Linked DNA regions of Homo sapiens. The protein of the gene in region 1 purifies or fractionates together with the protein of each later gene. This does not show direct contact. Each region holds a gene or a part of one and is shown on either strand. Other genes may lie near its edges.

Region 1 (4,807 bases):
GGAGTGCATTGTTACAAAATGGTTGTGATTGAAGGACCAATTTGATCCATTAGGTAATCATTTCCTGCATGAATCATCTGCCAAAACTTTCACAATGAAAAGGACATTTGGAAATGTTACTCTTCTGGTTTGAGTTGAAAACAGCAAATATATCAAATGTATGCCTTATAATGTTTCTGTTCAGATGCAGCATCCACCCATGGAGACAGGCCCTGGAAATCTCTGCTCTTAAAACAAAAAAATGCCATGAAACGATGTTTGAGACAGTTCTCCATTAAAGAGGGCACATTTGTAAAATGTAAACTTGGATGTTTTGTTGAAGAGAGTAGTGAAAAGACAGGAAGATTTAAAGGTGGAAATAGGGTTAAATCAGCAATTCAAAAATACGTTCATGATACAGAGGCTGTAGCAGTGTATAAACTGTCTCACAGCGAGGGCCTTCGTGATGCGTCCCCCTTCTGTGCTGACTCATTTGGTAGGAGCCCTCTTTTCCGACTGTCCTCTCAGGTTTATGGATGCTTGGTATAGTGTAGGGATTCATTGCATTGCACGGCTCTGGAGTGCGATGGCCCTGAGTGTGAGTTCTGCCTGTGTCCCCGGCTTGCTGTTAGAATGGATCTGGGCAGGTAACTTAGCTTCTTGAAGCTTCGGTTTCCTATCTGTGACCTCGAAAAGCTGTTGTTGTGGGGATTAAATGAGGTATTATCTATTCAGCTTTGGTGCAGGATCAAAGACAGAGTAAGTGTCTAGTGAAAGGTTGGTATTACTGTTATTACAGAAGTCCTTAATGAACAAACATTTTTATATGCTGAATGAGTTAAAACATGTAACTACTGTGTTTAACAGATGTGAAATTGTTTAAACAGTTGCTGGCACCAAGTGAGCACTCAGGCATGTTGACTTTGATCATCACGTGATGATGCAGCTGGCCGGTGTGTGTCATCTCGGGACAGGAGAGGGAAGTGTCAGAGACCTGGAGAAGTATTTCCCTAGTCAGCAGGTCCGCTTCTCACTTAGCAGGCAGTGACTTCCCACTGAAGAGGAGGGAAAGGCCTGGGGCCCGTGCAGGGCGGGGGAGCACTGCCCCGTCGGGGCAGCTCCCAGCCTTCTCAGAGCTGCAGTGCCTTCCTCTTGACACACACGGAGAGGGAATGGAGAAGGAAAGAGCTAGCTTAGGGATGCCAGGAACCGCAGACGCAACTCTCTTTTTAGCCCCACAACAGCCCCGGGGAACTGTGATTGTTCCTGTTTGTGGCTGAAGCTCCCAGTGGTTAAGGAGCCACCACAGCCTCACAGAGGCAGGAAACTGCAGTACAGGGACTAGGGCCCAGGCTGTCCATCATTGCCTCAGGAAAGTTCTCATAAATGGGGGTAAGTCCTTACAGTCTCTCCAAAGTATGTTAGTCAGGAGTGTCACAGATGCATCAGCGATAAGGAGAAGCTGCTTTACCGTGCGCAAGTTGTATAATTAATTCCTTGTGAGGTTCATATGCTTTGAGGGCTGGCCGGGGCCCCTACACTCATCTGAAACGTGATTTCCAGGGAAAAGCTCTACAGGTGTCAAGCACCTACCACTGTTTTCACGGTGGGAACCGCCACTGTGGAATATAGTGGTGGGGTGTTTATTTGATTTTCCTACTATTTTATGCGAATTTAAATCAGGCTGCTTATTTACTAGTAGAACTCAGAAACAGGCAAACAAACAAGAAACAGAGAGAAACAGAAAAGGGAACCCAAAGAATGTTAGAGCTGGAAGGAATCCCAGGCACGGTCAAATCCAAAACACAGTTTTTACGGATAGGGAAACTGAGGGCCAAGGAGGGGCAGGGCTCGCCGAGTTTCGCCTCCTCTGACCGCGTAGAATGGTTGCACTAAAGCAGATTCCTCGTGCTGTGTATCCGTCAGGTAACATCTGCCGGCACCTGCTGCCCCGGGTCCAGTGCCCCGCCTTGATTGTGCACGGTGAGAAGGATCCTCTGGTCCCACGGTTTCATGCCGACTTCATTCATAAGCACGTGAAAGGCTCACGGTAAGTCCTGTCACCGCCTTCACACTCCCCCCGAGAGCCTCGGAGTCAATGGGCAAAGCTACTGGAAGGAAAATAACCAAGAGGAGTTGGAGTTTTAGAGTGCACAGCCCCCCTTTTGCCAATGCCAGTCAGTAGCACCGCTTTATTTAGGGTACCACGGAAGAGAGAAGCCCTGAACTGTGGGTGACTGATAACCAGAAGGAAAGGCATGTTCAGATAGACAGCTCTTACTTTCATGAGTGGCAAACATGCTCATAGGTGCTAAGCCCTGTCACTTGGTAATAGTTTAGATTTATTTCCATCAGTATTAACCGAAACAGTTTCACACAATTTGGGAATTTTCAGTTTAGTTTTTTATCATTATAAAAGCACTGACCACCCAATTTAAAAAAATCTGTTAAACCAAATTTCTGATGTCTGCTGACAGCCAGCCCTACTCAGCACAGTTAATGGTAGTGTTCCCTGTCCCTAAAGCCCCCAGGCCAGCAGGGAAAGCAGGCACAGAAACAGCTCCACTGCTCCCTTCTCGCTCTGTTCTATGATGTATTTAACAACAGATTTCTCAGAGAATTTTTAAAGGAGGAAAAAAAGTTTCTTTTCTATAATAAAATACAATTACCATAAACCTTTATAATTACTATATCCATAATGGATAGTGCTATATCCATTTAGCATTTTTTAAGTTAACAGGCATCTCTTTATTCCACACATTCCTCCTATACCACTTCAACCATGAATCAAAAATACACATGAGCCTGTATAACAAATAATTCATTTGGTAAGAGCATAGAGTCAGTGAAGAGCAAAGGTGGGAGTTAGGCAGGATTATACTGCGGGTGGACAAAGAGGTTTAATGAGGGAGTTGGTTTTTTTTTGGAGTCGGAGTCTCGCACTGTCACCTGGGCTGGAGTGCAGTGGCACGATCTCGGCTAACTGCAACCTCCGCCTCCCAGGTTCAAGCGATTCTCCCACCTCAGTCTCCCAAATAGGTGGGATTACAGGTGTGCGCCACCACGCCCAGCTAATTTTTTGTATTTTCAGTAGAGACGGGTTTCACAATGTTAGCCAGGCTAGTCTCAAACTCCTGACCTCGTGATCCGCCTGCCTTGGCCTCCCAAAGTGCTGGGATTACAGGCATGAGCCACCACTCCCAGCTTGGAGTTTTTAAATTGATTTAGTAGGGGCTGGGCACAGTGGCTCACACCTGTAATTGCAGCACTTTGGGAGGCTGAGGCAGGCGGTTCACTTGAGGCCAGGAGTTCAAGACCAGCCTAGCCAACATGGCGAAACCCCATCTGTACTAAAAATACAAAAATTAGCCGGGCATGGTGGCGGGTGCCTGTAACCCCAGCTACTCAGGAAGCTGAGTCAGGAGAATCGCTTGAACCTGGGAGGCGGAGGTTGCAGTGAGCCAAGATTATGCCACTACACTCCAGCTGGGTGACAGAGTGAGACTCCGTCTCAGAAATAAATAAATAAGTATAAATTTATTTAGTAGCGAATAAAAGGTATTTTCAAACTAGACTTTATAAAATTATAATACTAAGTTATGGTCATGGTACAAAATTCCAGTAGTATACTTTCTTATTAATCCTTGCAAAAGTTTTTTTTGTTTGTTTTTTTTTTGAGGCACAGTTTCACTCTTGTTGCCCAAGCTGAAGTGCAATGGCGCGATCTCGGCTCACTGCAACCTCTGCCTCCTGGGTTCAAGTGATTCTCCTGCCTCAGCCTCCTGAGTAGCTGGGATTACAGGCACCCGCCACCACGCCCAGCTAATTTTTGCATTTTTAGTAGAGACGGGGTTTCACTGTGTTAGCCAGGATGGTCTCGATCTCTTGACCTTGTGATCCACCCACCTTGGCCTCCCAAAGTGCTGGGATTACAGGCATGAACCACCATGCCCGGCCTGCAAAAGTTTTTTATACAATCTCAGTTTTTGTGCTTTTGATTGTATACGTTTGCAGTGTACAAAGTGATATCTCCATATAGCACTTAATATTTTAAAAGGTATTTTATATATAGTATCTAGTTATAGTTTATGACATATTTATGAAAAATATTATCCATTTTACAGATGAGAAATCATGGCTGAGAGATGTTAAGCAATCTTTCAAGGTTGTATAGCTAGTAAATAATTAATCTTAGATTTTTCTCCTAATATGGTGCTTTTCCACCATAGCACAGCTGCCACTTATCTCTTAATATGTATGATGGTAACATGCCTAGAATAAGATACCAGGTGACCTGGTTAATTGTCTTCCAGCTTCAGAAATGACAGGTTTTGCACAGTGACACACATAGTAAATGTGTTATGTGCCCTTAAAGAGCCAGGTTCAATTAAAGTCAGTCTACAAGAAAGTTTAATTTAGGAATTAAAGTTTAATTTAGGCCCATCTCCTAGCAACACAGTACATCAGTATAGGAGAAAAACACCCTTACAGGCTCACACCTGTAATCCCAGCACTTTGGGAGGCCGAGGTGGGCAGATCACTTGAGGTCAGGAGTTCAAGACCAGCCTGGCCATCATGGTGAAACCTCGTCTCTACTAGAAATACAAAAATTAGCCAGACATGGTCGTGGGCACCCGTAATCCCAGCTACTCAAGATGCTGAGGCAGAGAATCACTTGAACCTGGGAGGCAGAGGTTGCAGCGAGCCAAGATCACGCCACTGCACTCCAGCCCGGGCAACAAGAGCCGAAACCCTCTCTGAAAAACAAACAAACAAACAAAAAAACACTTAAAGGCACAGACTATCCCTTCCCAGATTTTTACCAAGA
Region 2 (4,807 bases), on another chromosome or scaffold:
AGAAAGGCCTGGCCCTTGCCCCTAGGTCCTGAGAGGTATTTCCTAATCCCTTGGATTTTTTTGTTTTGTTTTGTTTTGTTTTAGACGAAGTCTCGCTGTGTCTCCCAGGCTGGAGTGCAGTGGCACGATCTCAGCTCACTGCAACCTCTGCCTCCCAGGTTCAAGCAATTCTCCTGCCTCAGCCTCCCGAGTAGCTGGGACTACAGGTGGGTGCCACCATGCCTGGCTAATTTTTGTATTTTTAGTAGAGACGGGTTTTCACCATGTTGGCCAGGCTGGTCTCAAACTCCCGGCCTCAAGTGATCCATCTGCTTCGGCCTCCCCAAGTGCTGGGATTACAGGCATGAGCCACCATGCCCAGCCTAGTCTTATTTTTTAGAAACAAGGTCTTGTCGGCCAGGCACTGTGGCTCACACCTGTAATCCCAACACTTTGGGAGGCTAAGGCGGGTGGATCACCTGAGGTCAGGTGTTCGAGACCAGCCTGGTCAACATGGTGAAACCCCGTCTCTACTGAAAATACAAAAAATTAGCTGGGCATGGTGGTGGGCGCCTGTAATCCCAGCTATTTGGGAGGCTGAGGCAAGAGAATCGCTTGAACCCTGGAGGCAGAGGGGCAGAGGTTGCAGTGAGCCAAGATCGTGCCATTGCACTCCAGCCTGGGCAACAAGAGGGAAACTCTGTCTCAAAAAAAGAAAAAAGAAAGAAAAAGAAAAAAGAAAAGAAACAAGGTCTTGTTCTGTCCTTGAGGCTGGAGTGCCTGTGGCACAATCATGGCTCACTGCAGCCTGAAACTCCCAGGCTCAAGTGATCTTCCTACCTCAGCCTCCCAAGTAGCTGGGACTACAGGTGTATGCCACTACACGTGACGAATTTTTAAACTTTTTTGTAGAGATGGGTGTTTCTAAGTTGCCCAGCTGGTCTTGAACTCCTGGGCTCAATCAACTGCTCACCTTGGCCTCTGAAAGTGCTGGGATTTCAGGCGTGAGCCACCGCGCCCGGCCCCCTTGCCTGATTTTCACGTTTGCTTTCATTGTAATTGACTATAACCCGGGAGTCCAGCAGCTTTGCTGAACACTATGAGTTTTGCTAAGTCGTTGAGCCTGAGGGTGGTCTTGGGGACTTCCTGATTGCAGCCCCCCCTCTCTGCTCTGTCCACGCTCAATTCCTTGGCGATATCACCCAGTCCTGGAGCTTCGATTAATTACAGAATATATGTGCCAAGGAATTGCAAATGGACGTGTCAGCCCAAGTCTCTCCCCTCAGATCCCGATGGGTGCATTTCTGTGCCCACCGGCAGCCTCTGCTGGACGTGGGATGGGCCGCCGCAGAGCCCGTGTCTTCCTCCCCCGCCTGCTCCCCTCCCTCCTCCCCTTCCCAGTTGCCCCACCCTGACAGTTGCTTCCGCCGAAACCTTGGAGTCACCCTTGACTCATCCCCTTCTCTCACACCCACATCCAGTCTGTCAGCAAATCCTCCCGGTCTCACCTTCAAAATACCTCCGTGACCATCACCCTAGTCCAGCCACCGTCCCCTCCCCTGGACCCCGGCCAGCGCCGCCTCTCGGGCTTCCCGGCTTCTGCTCTCTCGACAGTCGGTCCCCATCTGACCGCCAGAGGGCGCCGGTGAAGCCTAAGCCCGCTCGGGCTCCTCCTCTGCTGCGATCCCTGCCGCGCTGCCTCGTCACTCGGTCAGAGCTCAAGTCCGCACCGGGCCCACGCGGCCCTGCACATTTTGGCCCCTGTTGCCTCCCCACCCGGACCTCATCTCCACTCCTTTCCCCACTTGCTCACTTGGCTCCGGCCACACCGACCTCCCTCTTGCACCTCAGATACACCCACCTCAGGGCCTTTGCACCTGCTTTTCCCTCTTGCCTGAAATGCTCTTCCTCTAGAAACCTCTGTGGCTCCCACCATCACCTCCCGGGTTTTTACTCACTGGGGGCCCCCTTGACCTCCTTATTTATAATTGCAGCCCCACACCCACCTCTAACTCTATCTCCAGCCCTCTCCCCCCAATGTAAATTTATCCCATCAGACATTTTATGTATTATATTATATTGCATTATGTTATTATATGTTAAACATATAAATATTAAATATAATTAAAGTATATTGTAATACTATTAAATTATTATAATATGTAGTATAATATATGGGGGTTTTTTTTTTGAGACGGAGTTTTGCTTTTGTTGCCCAGGCTGGAGTGCAATGGCGCGATCTCGGCTCACCACAACCTCCGCCTCCTGGGTTCAAGCGATTCTCCTGCCTCAGCCTCCCAAGTAGCTGGGATTACAGGCATGTGCCACCACGCCCAGCTAACTTTGTATTTTTAGTAGAGACAGGTTTTCTCCATGTTGGTCAGGATGGTCTCAAACTCCTGACCTCAGGTGATCTGCCCACCTTGGCTTCCCAAAGTGCTGGGAGTACAAACGTGAGCCACTGCGCCTGGCTGTAATTTTTTTTTTTTTTTTTGAGATGAAATCTTGGTCTGTCTCCCAGGCTGGAGTGCAGTGGTGCCATCTCAGCTCACTGCAACCTCCACCTCCCAGGTTCCAGCAATTCTCCTGCCTTAGCCTCCTGAGTAGCTGGGATTACAGGCACCCACCACCAGATCCGACTAATTTTTGTATTTTTAGTAGAGACATGGTTTCACCATGTTGGCCAAGCTGGTATTGAACTCCTGGCCTCAAGTGATCTGCCTGCCTCTGCCTCCCAAAGTGCTGGGATTACAGGCGTGAGCCACCATGCCAGCACCGGCTTTTTTTTTTTTTTTTTTTTTTTTTTTTTTTTTGAGACAGTCTTGCCCTGTTGCCTAGGATGGAGTGCAGTAAGGTGATTTCAGCTCAGTGCAGCCTTGACCTGCTGGGCTCAAGTGATCCTCCCACCTCAGCATTCCAAGTAGCTGGGACTACAAGTGTGTGCCACCACGTCTGACTGATTTTTAAAATTTCTTGTAATGATGTGGTCTGACTATGTTGCCCAAGCTGGTCTCAAACTCCTGGCCCAAAGTGATCCTCCCGCCTCAGCCTCCCAAAGTGCTGGGACTACAGGCATGAGCCATCACTCCCTGCCAAAGGGCAGGCATTTCTGTGTGTATATTGACCACTGTGCTAGATCAGAGTCAGGCACATAGTAGGTGTTTAACAAATAGGTGCTGAATGAATCAATGAGTTATGCTCCGTCCCCCCATTACCCCATACACCCATGCAGCCCCTCCCAACTGACACACACCCCTCCTCCCAACCTTGGCCTTGGAGCTGAAGAAGGCCTTGGTGAAGATCTGGATGGGAAGATGGGAGCTCATGAGGCGGGGGCTGTACTGGTCCGGGAGGCTGAAGGCACCCACAATGGTCTCACACCAGGGTGCCCGCTCCCAGATGGGCACGGAGCGGATCCAGGATGGATCCCCTTCCTTCAGGATTAAGCAGATGATCTCGATCATCCAGGTCGTGCCTGTTGGGAGAAATCGAGCAGATTAATTGGGTGTGGGAGGGCTGAAGAGGGAGATATCATCAGAATAATCACAACAGCACTTATTGAGCAATTTGCCACCTTTTATTATTTTTTTTTAAGACAGAGTCTTACTCTGTTGCCCACGCTGGAGTGCAATGGCGCGATCTCGGCTCACTGCAACCTCCACCTCCCAGGCTCAAGCAATTCTCCTGCCTCAGCCTCAGCCGAGTAGCTAGCATTACAAGCGCCCACCACCACGCCTGGCTAATTTTGTATTTTTAGTAGAGACGAGGTCTCCCCATGTTGGCCAGGCTGGTCTCGAACTCCTGACCTCAGGTGCTCTGCCCACCTCGGCCTCCCAAACTGCTGGGATTACAGCTGTGAGCCACCACGCCCTGCCTGACAGCATTTATTGAGCAATTTACCACCTATTTTATCACACTGATTCCTTACAGCTGGCAGAGAAGGCAAGGTTGCTTAACCTCATTTTCGGAGCCAGAAACTGAGCCTTACAGAAACCATGTCGCTCGTCCAAGGGGACAAAGCTAGGAAAGTGGTGCAGGGCAGAGACTGGTGAGCTGTCCACCCAACCCCATTTCATTTTTCTGCTGGGAATATGGCGTGATGACCTTTTCTCTTCTCCCCTGCTGCTATGTGTGGGGCCAAGAGACTGGGTCTGGCCAAGGAAGTATAGGTGGCGGCGATGTGATGTGCGGCTATTTCCAGGCCTGGCCCATAAACGCACGCCACGTGACTCTCCACTCCCTCTCTGCTTCTGGATACAGAGACTCCAGGGGAGAATCTGGGACTCCCGGGGATGGCAGAGCCATAAGATGGAAGGAACCAAATGTCTGGGAATGCATGGATATCCCCCCACCAACTTCCTTCCACCCTTCCTGCACCAACTACAGTTTATAGGAAAAAGAAACAAACTTGGCTTCAGCCGCTGAAATTCTGAGGCTGATCTATTAGTACAGCCAGAATTGCTTTACTTATTTATTTTTTTGGGGACAGAATCTTGCTCTGTCACCCAGGCTGGAGTGCAGTGGTGTGATCACAGCTCACTGCAGCCTTGAAATCCCGGGCTTAAGAGATCCTCCTGCCTCAGCCTCCCGAGTAGCTGAGACCACAGGTGCACACAACCACACCTGGCTAATTTCTTATTTTTATTTTTAGAAGACATACGGTCCCACTATGTTGCCCAGGCTGGTCTTGAACTCCTGGGCTCAAGCAATCCTCCTGCCTCAGCCTCCCAAGGTGCTGGGAGCAGAGGCATCATGCCCAGCAGGCACTCCTTTAATACATGGAGAAAGCTGGAATTGAACCCAGGTGTCTGGACATAAAAATCTCTGC
Region 3 (4,807 bases), on another chromosome or scaffold:
GGGGGGCGTGGTCCGAGGGCTCCATGCTGCCGTACCCAGGCCCACCAGGAGGCCCTGAAGATGGAGTGGCAGAACTTCCTGAACCTGTGTATCTGCCAGGAGACCCAGCTGCAGCACGTGGAGGACTACCGCCGGGTGAGCCCTCGGGCAGGCGGCAGGGGCGGCAGGGGCGGCAGGGGCGGCAGGGGCGGGAGCACAGCACCCCTGCCCACAGGAGAGGCACTGCACCTCCCAACTAGACAGAGCTGGCAGGGCGCGGTGGCTCACACCTGTAATCCCAGCACTTTGGGAGGCCGAGGCTGGTGGATCACTTGAGGTCAGGAGTTCGAGATCAGCCTGGCCAACATGGTGAAACCCTGTCTCTACTAAAAATACCAAAATTAGCCAGATGTGGTGGCACGCGCCTGTAATCCGAGCTACTCAGGAGGCTGAGGCAGGAGAATCGCTTGAACCCAGGAGGCGGAGGTTGCAGTGGGCCGAGATTGGTCCACTGCACTCCAGCCTGGGTGACAGAGAGAGACTCCACCTCAAAAATAAAATAAAATAGAGCTGTGTGGTTGCCACTCGGTCCCAGAGGGAAAGAAAGGCATGGGCACATTCTCAACAGGGTGAAGCGGTTCCCAGGGGGGTGAAAATTGGTTCTTACTGGCAGAAAAATATCTTAACTCTTTTTATGCATGAAGTCCAGATCCACATACAGCACCTAAGCTGTATACAGCATATCTGTGGTATTAAAATTTCGTGGGGGCCAGGTGTGGTGGCTCACATCTGTAATTCCAGCACTTTGGGAAGCCGAGCCAGGAGAATTGCTTGACACCAGTAGTTCCAGACCAGCCTGGGCAACATAGCAAGACCCTGTCTCTATACAAATAGATACATCTCTATCAAAATAAATAAATAAATAAAATTTTATGGGGATGAGGTGGGGGGAAATTAAATAAAATATTTCTTAAAAGGCTCTTTAGGAGAATAATAATGAAAAAAAAAACGGTTGAGAAACCCTGATATAATATGCAACTGGGATTTGGGGGCAGATAATGTTTCATACATTTTCCTATAGAACCACAAGACTGTGATCACACACGTTGACAAAAATTCCGTCAAAGCACCTGGAATGCTTCTTTAAAGCACAGCTTCTTCTCCGGGGCTGGGACAAGTGCAGCTCCAATACCCTCTGTCCCAGCAAGAAAGACTTCAGGTGCTGGAGGGAGGCAGGTGACGGTGCCCTTCATTTGTGCAGGAAGGACGAAGACCAAGTGTTTTATGACCCACTTAAAAAAATTAAGTTCAGTGCACAAATAAGACCCCATTTGCAAGAGCACACCAGTGATAAAAGGTCCTGCCGCCTGGGTAGGAAAAAGAAAGACCGACCAGAGTAGGGGAGAGTGACAGTTTAGGTTTAGCTGGTTTAAGTTTAGCTGGTTTAGGTTTATCTGGTTTAAGTTTATCTGGTTTGTGTTTAGCTGGTTTAGGTTTATCTGGTTTAAGTTTATCTGGTTTGTGTTTAGCTGGTTTAGGTTTAGCTGGTTTAGGTTTATCTGGTTTAAGTTTATCTGGTTTGTGTTTAGCTGGTTTAGGTTTAGCTGGTTTAGGTTTATCTGGTTTGTGTTTGGCTGGTTTAGGTTTAGCTGGTTTCGGTTTAGGTGGTTTGTGTTTAGCTGGTTTAGATTTAGCTGGTTTAAGTTTAGCTGGTTTAGGTTTACCTGGCTTAGGTTTTTCTGGTTTAGGTTTAGCTGATTTGTGTTTAGTTGGTTTAGGTTTAGCTGGCTTAGCGGTTACTGGTTTAGTTTAGCTGTTTCACATTTATCTGGTTTGTGTTTAGCTGGTTTGTGTTTAGCTGGTTTAGGTTTAGCTGCTTTGTGTTTAGCTGGCTTAGGTTCAGCTGGTTTGTAGGGTCAGTGGGCAGCAGGTTGCACGAGGCTCTGCCCTTGACCACCCAGTGAACTCAGTTCCAGGAAGAGGCCGACTCAGTCAGCCAGACCCTGGCGAAGCTCAACTCCAACTTGGATGCCAAGTACAGCCCTGCACCTGGGGGCCCCCCTGGCGCCCCCACAGAGCTGCTGCAACAGCTGGAGGTGAGACAACCCCACCAGGCCGTCTGCACCCCACTTCTGGGAATTGGTCCTGTCCATTTTTCTGGGCCTCACCCCTTCTGCCTTGGTACCTAGTCCTATCCCAAGCCCTGGCCTGGGTGCTGGCAGGGGGGTTTACTCTAGCAGGAGGCTGGCCAGGTACCAGCAAGCTCCTCCCACTTCTGGACGTCAGTTTCCTCATTTGCAGTGGGACAAGGGCAGCCTGGGAGAGCTCTGAGGCCTGTCTAGCTTCTGCTTGGTGGCCTGGGTGATGCTGTGCCATCCCCCTCCCTGCAACTAGCAGATCCCAGGATCCTAGGTCCCCCAGAGAGGGGCTCCTTTTACTTTGCTGACTTAGAGACCCCTGCCTTCATGAAGGCCAGCCTCTAGGCCTTTTGAAGGACAGGTATGGTGTGGCCAGCCTCCAATGCAGCCTGGCCTGAGTCCCCCACTGCCTGGGCCCCCGGCAGGCAGAGGAAAAACGGCTGGCCGTCACCGAGAGGGCCACTGGGGACCTGCAGCGGCGAAGCCGGGATGTGGCCCCTCTGCCACAGCGAAGAAACCCCCCTCAGCAGCCCCTGCACGTGGACAGCATCTGCGACTGGGACTCAGGAGAAGTGCGAACTCCCCCACCTCACCCCTGCCACCATCCAGCCCCGCCCAACCCATCCCCTGCCCCTGCCCAAGCCCATCCCTGCTCCATCCCCAGCTGTCTCCTGCGCCCACTTTTGCCCTACTCCTTCCCTTGACTCAGACCCTCCTCTCTCCAAGTCCTGTCCTGCCTCTTTTCTACCCCAGCACCTCCCACCCTACTCTTGTCCCTGTTCCAGCTGCTGTCCCCATTTGTCTCTGTCCCCAGCCCCTACTCTGCCCTGGCCTTGGCCCCCTGCCCCTGAGCCCTCAGGAGCTGCTCCCTTTCTGTGCCCCCAGGTGCAGCTGCTGCAGGGTGAGCGGTATAAGCTGGTAGATAACACTGACCCGCACGCCTGGGTCGTGCAGGGCCCTGGCGGGGAGACCAAGCGTGCTCCCGCCGCCTGCTTCTGCATCCCAGCACCAGACCCTGATGCTGTGGCCAGGGCCTCCCGGTAGGTCTGTGTAGGGATACTCAGGGGCAGGCTGTGGGCAGAGCAGGCCGGCCCTGCGGTGTCCAAGCCCATGGCCCAACAGACCCCTGCTCAAAGGCTGGCCTTCACCTGAAGCTGCGTCTACTGGGGCTGGGGAGGGAGAGAGGCAGAGTGGGGACCTCTTTCTTCAATCTCCTCTTCATTCTAGGCTGGCCTCAGAGCTGCAGGCCCTGAAGCAGAAATTGGCCACAGTCCAGAGCCGCCTGAAGGCCAGTGCTGTGGAGTCTCTTCGGCCCAGCCAGCAGGGTACCCAGGGTGGCCCGGGGAGAGGTGGCTGTGGGGCTAGAAGGAGTAGATTCCGACTTCCGACTGGTCTGTGATGGGCAGGGGTCGCCTTGGGTTAGGGACCATCACTCTGGGGATTTCATCTCTGGGGTGGCCCTGCCCATCCCCTCCACCCTACCCCGACAGGACCCTCTGTGGGCACCTGGTGGGGGCACCTATCTGGCAGTCTGGAGATAGGCCCTGGGCCCTCACCAGCACCTCTGCCCCCAGCTCCATCTGGCTCAGACCTGGCCAACCCACAGGCCCAGAAGCTCCTGACACAGATGACCCGGCTGGATGGAGACCTGGGACAGATAGAGAGGCAGGTGCTGGCCTGGGCGCGGGCCCCGCTGAGCCGCCCCACACCCTTGGAGGACTTGGAGGGCCGCATCCACAGCCATGAGGTGGGTGAGCAGCGGGAAGGGGCGGCTGGGATGAGAAGCGGCCCGGCCCTGGTGCTCACACTTGAGGGAGGTGAGGCAAGTGCAGGAGCGGTGGCTGGGATGGAGATGGAGAAGGGTGTGGACAGACCCGGGCTCAGACAAGCTGGTTCCCCTCCTGGCTCCTCCACTGACCAGCTCCAGGATCTTGGACTACATAACTCTCTGGGCCTTGGTTTCCTCATCCCTGAAGCAGATGTAATAATGCCCAGCTCGCCTGATCATTCAGGAAGGTTCCAGTAGGGCCCAATGTCAACACCCCAGGAGGTATTCTGGTGAAGCTCCTGAAATAGCAAGGAAGCCTGGAGAATCTTAGGAAGAGATGTCCCCTGGCTGCAAGGGGGAGCCTACCTGGGGAGGTTGCAGCATTGTGTAAACTCCTTACCCAAGAACAGCACGTGGACTCAACACTCCCAAAAGTGCTCAGAGTGAAACCCACACCGGGCCGCAGTCTGGGTTATCCTTCCAAACCAGTTTCTTTTCTTTTCTTGAGACAAAGTCTCTCTGCATCACCCAGGCTGGAGTGCAGTGGCACGATCTTGGCTCACTGCAACTTCTGCCTCCCAGGTTCAAGCAATTCTCCTGCCTCAACCTCCGGAGTAGCTGGGATTACAGGCACACACCACCATGCCCAACTAATTTTTGTATTTTTAGTAGAGATGGGGTTTCACCATGTTGGCCAGGCTGATGTCGAACTCCTGACCTTAAGTGATCCACCCATCTCGGCCTCCCAGAGTGCTGGGATTACAGGCGTGAGCCACCGCACCTGGTCTGTTTTTTGTTTTATGAGATGGGGTCTCACTTTGTCACCCAGGCTGGAGTGCAGTGGTGTGCAATGGTATAATCTCAGCTCACTGCAACCTCCACCTCCCAGGCTTGAGTGATCCTCCCACCTCAGCCTCCCGAG
Region 4 (4,807 bases), on another chromosome or scaffold:
GATCAGCCAGGCCACAGCCTTGTTCTGGTGGTGAGGACAGACATGCTGTCTGGCCTGCTGGCCTTCTGAGGCATGCACTTGGGTCCATAGACTAGAAGGGACGGGCTGACAGATGTCCTCAAGGTCGGCGCCCAGCCAGCTGGTGGCAGAGCCAGCATGCTGTCTCTGGGAAGTGGAGCAATCCTGTGGGCTTTGCTGGAGAGAAGGGGCTTTGTGGGCTGTGGATCACTCAGACCAGGCTACCATGCTTAGGGAGGGCAGTGTGGGAGCAAGTTCAGGTTCCTCTCGCTTATGTGTGACTGGGGGCAGGTCACTCTGCCTCCTCTCTAGAACAAGGTGGTGGCATCTGCCAGATGATATCTGCTAGGGCACCTGAGGTGTCTCTGGTCACGCTGGTCTAGTTCCATGGGATTCCCAGGGCCTGCCCAGCCAGAGACACTTCAGCAAGGCCTCTGGGGTCCGTCCGGGTCCCAGCCCACCAGTCCCGCCAGCATCACGGTGGGTACCTGACTTTCTGGCCACAGGTCCAGCCGTCTGGGAGTGCCCACACAGTGGCATGCCAAGGCCTCGCAGTGGGGAGGTCACAGTTGTGCAAGGTGACAAATATGGGGATTCAAATTATTTATTTAGAGACAAGGTCTCGCTCTGTTGGGCAGTCTGGAGTGCAGTGGCACAATCACAGCTCACTGAAGCCTTGACCTCCCAGGCTGAAGCGATCCTCCTGCCTCAGCCTCACAGGCAGTTGGGACTACAGGCACATGTCCACCACGCTCAGCTGATTTTTTTTTTTTTTTTTTTTTTGAGATGGAGTTTTGCTCTTGTTGCCCAGGCTGGAGTGCAATGGTGTGATCTCAGCTCACCGCAACCTCCGCCTCCCAGGTTCAAGCGATTCTCCTGCCTCAGCCTCCCGAGTAGCTGGGATTACAGGCATGTACCACCACACCCGGCTAATTTTGTATTTTTAGTAGAGATGGGGTTTCACCATGTTGGCCAGGCTGATCTCAAACTCCTGATGTCAGGTGATCCACCTGTCTCGGCCTCCCAAAATGCTGGGATTACAGGTGTGAGCCACCATGCCCGGCCGCTCAGCTGATTTTTTGTATTTTTTGGTAGAGATGGGGTTGCTCCATATTGTCCAGGCTGGTCTCGAACTCCTGGGCTCAGGTGATTGGCTTGCCTTGGTCTCCCCAAGTGCTGGGGACCCAAATAATTAGAAAAGTTCCTCCGGCTGCTGTGTCCCCAAGTTGGAAAAAAAAGTTCTCCACAATTTTGTCCTGTTTGCTTTGTTCTCTTTGGGCATTATTTAGCCGCCAGGAAGGAGTGAGTGTGTCTGGCGTGTAGACCGCACTTTGCAGCACACAGCCACCTTCTCCTTTGACCCTCCCAGCAAGCCTGGGTGTTAGCAAGGGAAGGCCTGCCTTGTCCCTATTCCAGAGATGGGAAAACCCAAGGCTTCAAACTGAGCATGGTGTTGGGAGGTCACGAACCCAAACCTGGCGGGACCTATAACAGAAGAAAAGGCGCAGCCTGGGTCTAGGCCGGCTGCCACCAGCATCTGTCCGTCCTCAGACAGGGAGGCAGACCTGGAGAGACCGACTGGCCTCACTTTCTCCACCCAAATGCTCTCTCTCTTTTTTTTCTTTTTTAATTAGGGGATCATCTCTGGCTCCCTCTTACCTCTGGGCTTTTGCACATACTGTTCCCTCTGCCTAGAAGACTCTGTACTTAGCAAACTCGCCCTCAACCTTTGGTCTTGGCTCATTTATTCCTCAGCGTGCCCCTCAGGCACCCTCAGGTGCCCACACACCGTGCCAGGTGGTGGGAATCTGATGGCAAACACAGCAGATCCCCTATGGAACCTACAGGTCAAGATGGCCAAGATCAAGAAAGGGGGCCGGCGCCGTGGCTCACGCCTGTAATTCCAGCACTTCGGGAGGCTGACATGGGTGGATTGCTTGAGGTCAGGAGTTCAAGTCCAGCCTGGCCAACATGGTGAAACCCCATCTCTATTAAAATACAAAAATTAGTTGGGTGTGCTGGCACACGCGTGTAATCCCAGCTACTAGGGAGGCTGAGGCAGGAGAATTGCTTGAATCCAGGAGTGCAGGTTGCAGTGAGCCAAGATCGTGCCACTGCACTCCAGCCTGGGCGACAGAGTGAGACTCCGTCTCAAAAAAAAATAAAAGAATAAGTGTAAACAAAAGCAAACTATCCCATATCCTGCAGAGCACAGCAGGTACAAAGGGCCTGGGGCAGGAAGCAGCCTGGCTGTTTGGGGAACTGGTGTAGTGGGGGAGGCAGCATTGGGAGTGAGGTGGGAGAGAGGCCAGAGGACCGGCGTTTGAATGCAGTTTTGAACAGAGGAGGGATGGCACCTGATTTATGTTCCCAGGATCCATGGCTGCCGGTCAAGGAACAGATGGGGATGAGATGCACACGGAGATCAGCTGGGAGTTGGGAGCGTCTGTGGGATCTAGGGAGCCATGAGGAAGGCTCAGTCCTGGAGGGTGAGAGGAAGGCTTGGTTTCTAGGGTGTCACGGGGATCAATCCAAAAGAGGATGGAAAGGGAGGGACCCCTGGTGCAGGGTCTCGAGTAAAAAAGAGGGAAGAATGGAGCAACAAAAAAATGACGTTTTGGGGGAAAGAGTCAAACGTTCTGTTTTGCATGCCTGGGCTTTGGGGAATGAGAGCAGGCAGGCACTGTGGGGGTCAGAGGCTCAGAAGAGAGTGGAGGGACAGCCCCGGAGGTTGCTTGCTTAAAGAGCGTTTTGAATCTGTGCAACTGATTAGAAGACCTAGGGAGGAAAGCAGCAAGGACACTTCCTGTCCACAGGGAAGGCAGGAGGGGCCGCTGCATGGGGTGTGGTGACCTTGACCTTGTTGGAAGGAGGGACCAGACTGGGTGGACTGAAGGGAGCATGGGAGGGAAGAAGTGGAGACAGCAGAGGAGGGGGCAGCTGCAGGGGCGTGGAATGCGGGCGTTGAGGGAGGGGACGGGATTATTTGAGGGCAGGCAGGACAGCCTGGTGGAGGGGGACCTGCAGCAGTGAGTCCTCTGGGAGGTGGGCTTGGCAGGTGGCAGCGCTGGTACTGAATGCAGGACCTACTCGTGCCCAAACATGTTTATGGAAGAGGGGGCAGAAGTGGCTGCCAGGAAAGGTGGCTCTGGCTTGAGCAGCAGTGGGGGCTGACCAGGGGTGGGCCTAGCCTTTTGTGATGACCCCACCTTTGCATCCAGCAGGGACTCTGGACTGGGCCCCTTGCATGAGTTCTGTCATCTAATGCTCTCAGCATCCTTGGGTTGTTATCACCCCTGCCAGCAGTGGTTAGATGAGGAGATGGAGGCCTGGATGATGAAGTGACTCTGGCCGGGAAAACACCCTGCTGTGTGAGGGTGGCCTCCCAACCTCCCTGAACATTTGTGGAGGGACCTACCTGTCCCCCTCACTGCCATGTGCATAGAAGCTTCCAGGCTGCAGTCCTTCCTTTCTCACCACCTCCTCTAATTGCTCTCCCGCCTCTACATATTTTTTGATGCTTTTTGAGTTTCTCAATTGTAGCCTTTGCTGTTTGCCGTGGGGGCTGCCCCATCCCGGGAGCCTGTGGTCCAGGGTGCCAGGCTGGGCTGAGCGCCTGGGTGTGCAGGCGGCCTCGGGCCAGCAGGGGGAGCCCGTGAGCTGCTAGCCTGGCCTGGCGCGGTCGGGGCGGGCCCTTCTGAGACGGGTTCCAGGTTTCTGTGCCTGGTGCCACCCCCAAGGGAAGGCGGAGCCCATGGGACAGTGCTCAGGCAAGGGGAGCCGGCCAGGGTGGACCCCGAGTCTGTGAGCGGGTGGGGGGTGCCTGGCTCCTCACTCAAGTCCCTGCTGTGTGAGGGTGGCCTCCCAACCTCCCTGAGCCCCGGTTTCCTCATCTGTAAAACGAGAACGATTCCAACCCCATTGGTCATGCTGGGAGCCCTCAGCCGCTGCCGGGGGGGATGTTGGGGACAGGTGCCAGGTCCACTTGGTCCTGCAGCTCCTGGAGGAGGACAGCTGTCCCGCTGCCTGCATGCAGTGACAGTGAGGGCAGAACTGACTGGCGGTGGGACTGATGGATAATGTCGCTGGCTGAGTGCTGCCAACCGGCTTGGCCTTAGTGTGTGGGAGGAAGCTCGGAGCTGTTCTGCAGGGGACGTCTTCACCCCCGTTCTAATCAGGGAGAAACGGGGGACCCAGAGAGATGTGGACGCTGCTGGAAAGTGGCAGAGCTGAATTCATCACAACCCAGGTCTGCGATGCCTGAGCCAGTCCCTCAGCCTCCCCAGACCTCAGTTTCCCTCCCTGAACAAAGAGAGCAGGACAAGATATTCTAGGGGCCTCTGAGGTTTCCCCAGCATGCCTGCCCTGTGTGCCCAGAGAAGGAGGGACAGGAAGAGCTGGTTTGCATTCTTGGATGAGGCAAGAAAGGAGATGTGGGGGTGCAAGCCCCAGGCCCGTTCCTCTGCCCCCACCCTGATCCTCCTTCCTGCCTCTGCAGCCTTTCTGAAGGGCCTGAGTGACAAGCAGCGGGAGGAACATTACTTCTGCAAGGACTTTGTCAGGCTGAAGAAGATCCCGACATGGAAGGAGATGGCGAAAGGTAGGCCCTGCTCGGGGGAGGCCCTGGTGGGCAGGCTCCAGACCCGTGGCTTGGGAGAATTGTGCAGACAAGAAGAGCTAGTCCAGTGGCATGTATCGAGTGCTTGCTGCAGGCAGGTGCTCCGCGTGTATCACCTCATTCAATTATTTTATTTTATTTTTTGAGATGGAATTTCACTCTTTTTGCGCA

Evidence for each region. The genes of interacting proteins can lie anywhere in the genome.
Region 2: the proteins of BPHL (region 1) and SULT2B1 purify together in Homo sapiens (affinity purification with mass spectrometry; one large-scale study listed by BioGRID and IntAct). This does not show direct contact.
Region 3: the proteins of BPHL (region 1) and EVPL purify together in Homo sapiens (affinity purification with mass spectrometry; one large-scale study listed by BioGRID and IntAct). This does not show direct contact.
Region 4: the proteins of BPHL (region 1) and MACROD1 fractionate together in Homo sapiens (co-fractionation; one large-scale study listed by BioGRID). This does not show direct contact.

The regions. Positions count from the first base shown.
Region 1 is NC_000006.12:3,138,481-3,143,287, forward strand, and holds part of BPHL (serine hydrolase BPHL isoform 1 precursor), read left to right. Parts: intron 1-1,905; coding exon 1,906-2,029; intron 2,030-4,807. UniProt on the Homo sapiens protein: Specific alpha-amino acid ester serine hydrolase that prefers small, hydrophobic, and aromatic side chains and does not have a stringent requirement for the leaving group other than preferring a primary alcohol.
Region 2 is NC_000019.10:48,585,876-48,590,682, reverse strand, and holds part of SULT2B1 (sulfotransferase 2B1), read right to left. Parts: intron 3,455-4,807; coding exon 3,246-3,454; intron 1-3,245. UniProt on the Homo sapiens protein: Sulfotransferase that utilizes 3'-phospho-5'-adenylyl sulfate (PAPS) as sulfonate donor to catalyze the sulfate conjugation. Responsible for the sulfation of cholesterol.
Region 3 is NC_000017.11:76,016,796-76,021,602, reverse strand, and holds part of EVPL (envoplakin), read left to right. Parts: intron 1-39; coding exon 40-135; intron 136-1,949; coding exon 1,950-2,075; intron 2,076-2,542; coding exon 2,543-2,689; intron 2,690-3,002; coding exon 3,003-3,157; intron 3,158-3,344; coding exon 3,345-3,442; coding exon of another isoform or gene 3,443-3,508; intron 3,509-3,691; coding exon 3,692-3,864; intron 3,865-4,807. UniProt on the Homo sapiens protein: Component of the cornified envelope of keratinocytes. May link the cornified envelope to desmosomes and intermediate filaments.
Region 4 is NC_000011.10:64,152,103-64,156,909, reverse strand, and holds part of MACROD1 (ADP-ribose glycohydrolase MACROD1), read left to right. Parts: intron 1-4,516; coding exon 4,517-4,618; intron 4,619-4,807. UniProt on the Homo sapiens protein: Removes ADP-ribose from aspartate and glutamate residues in proteins bearing a single ADP-ribose moiety. Inactive towards proteins bearing poly-ADP-ribose.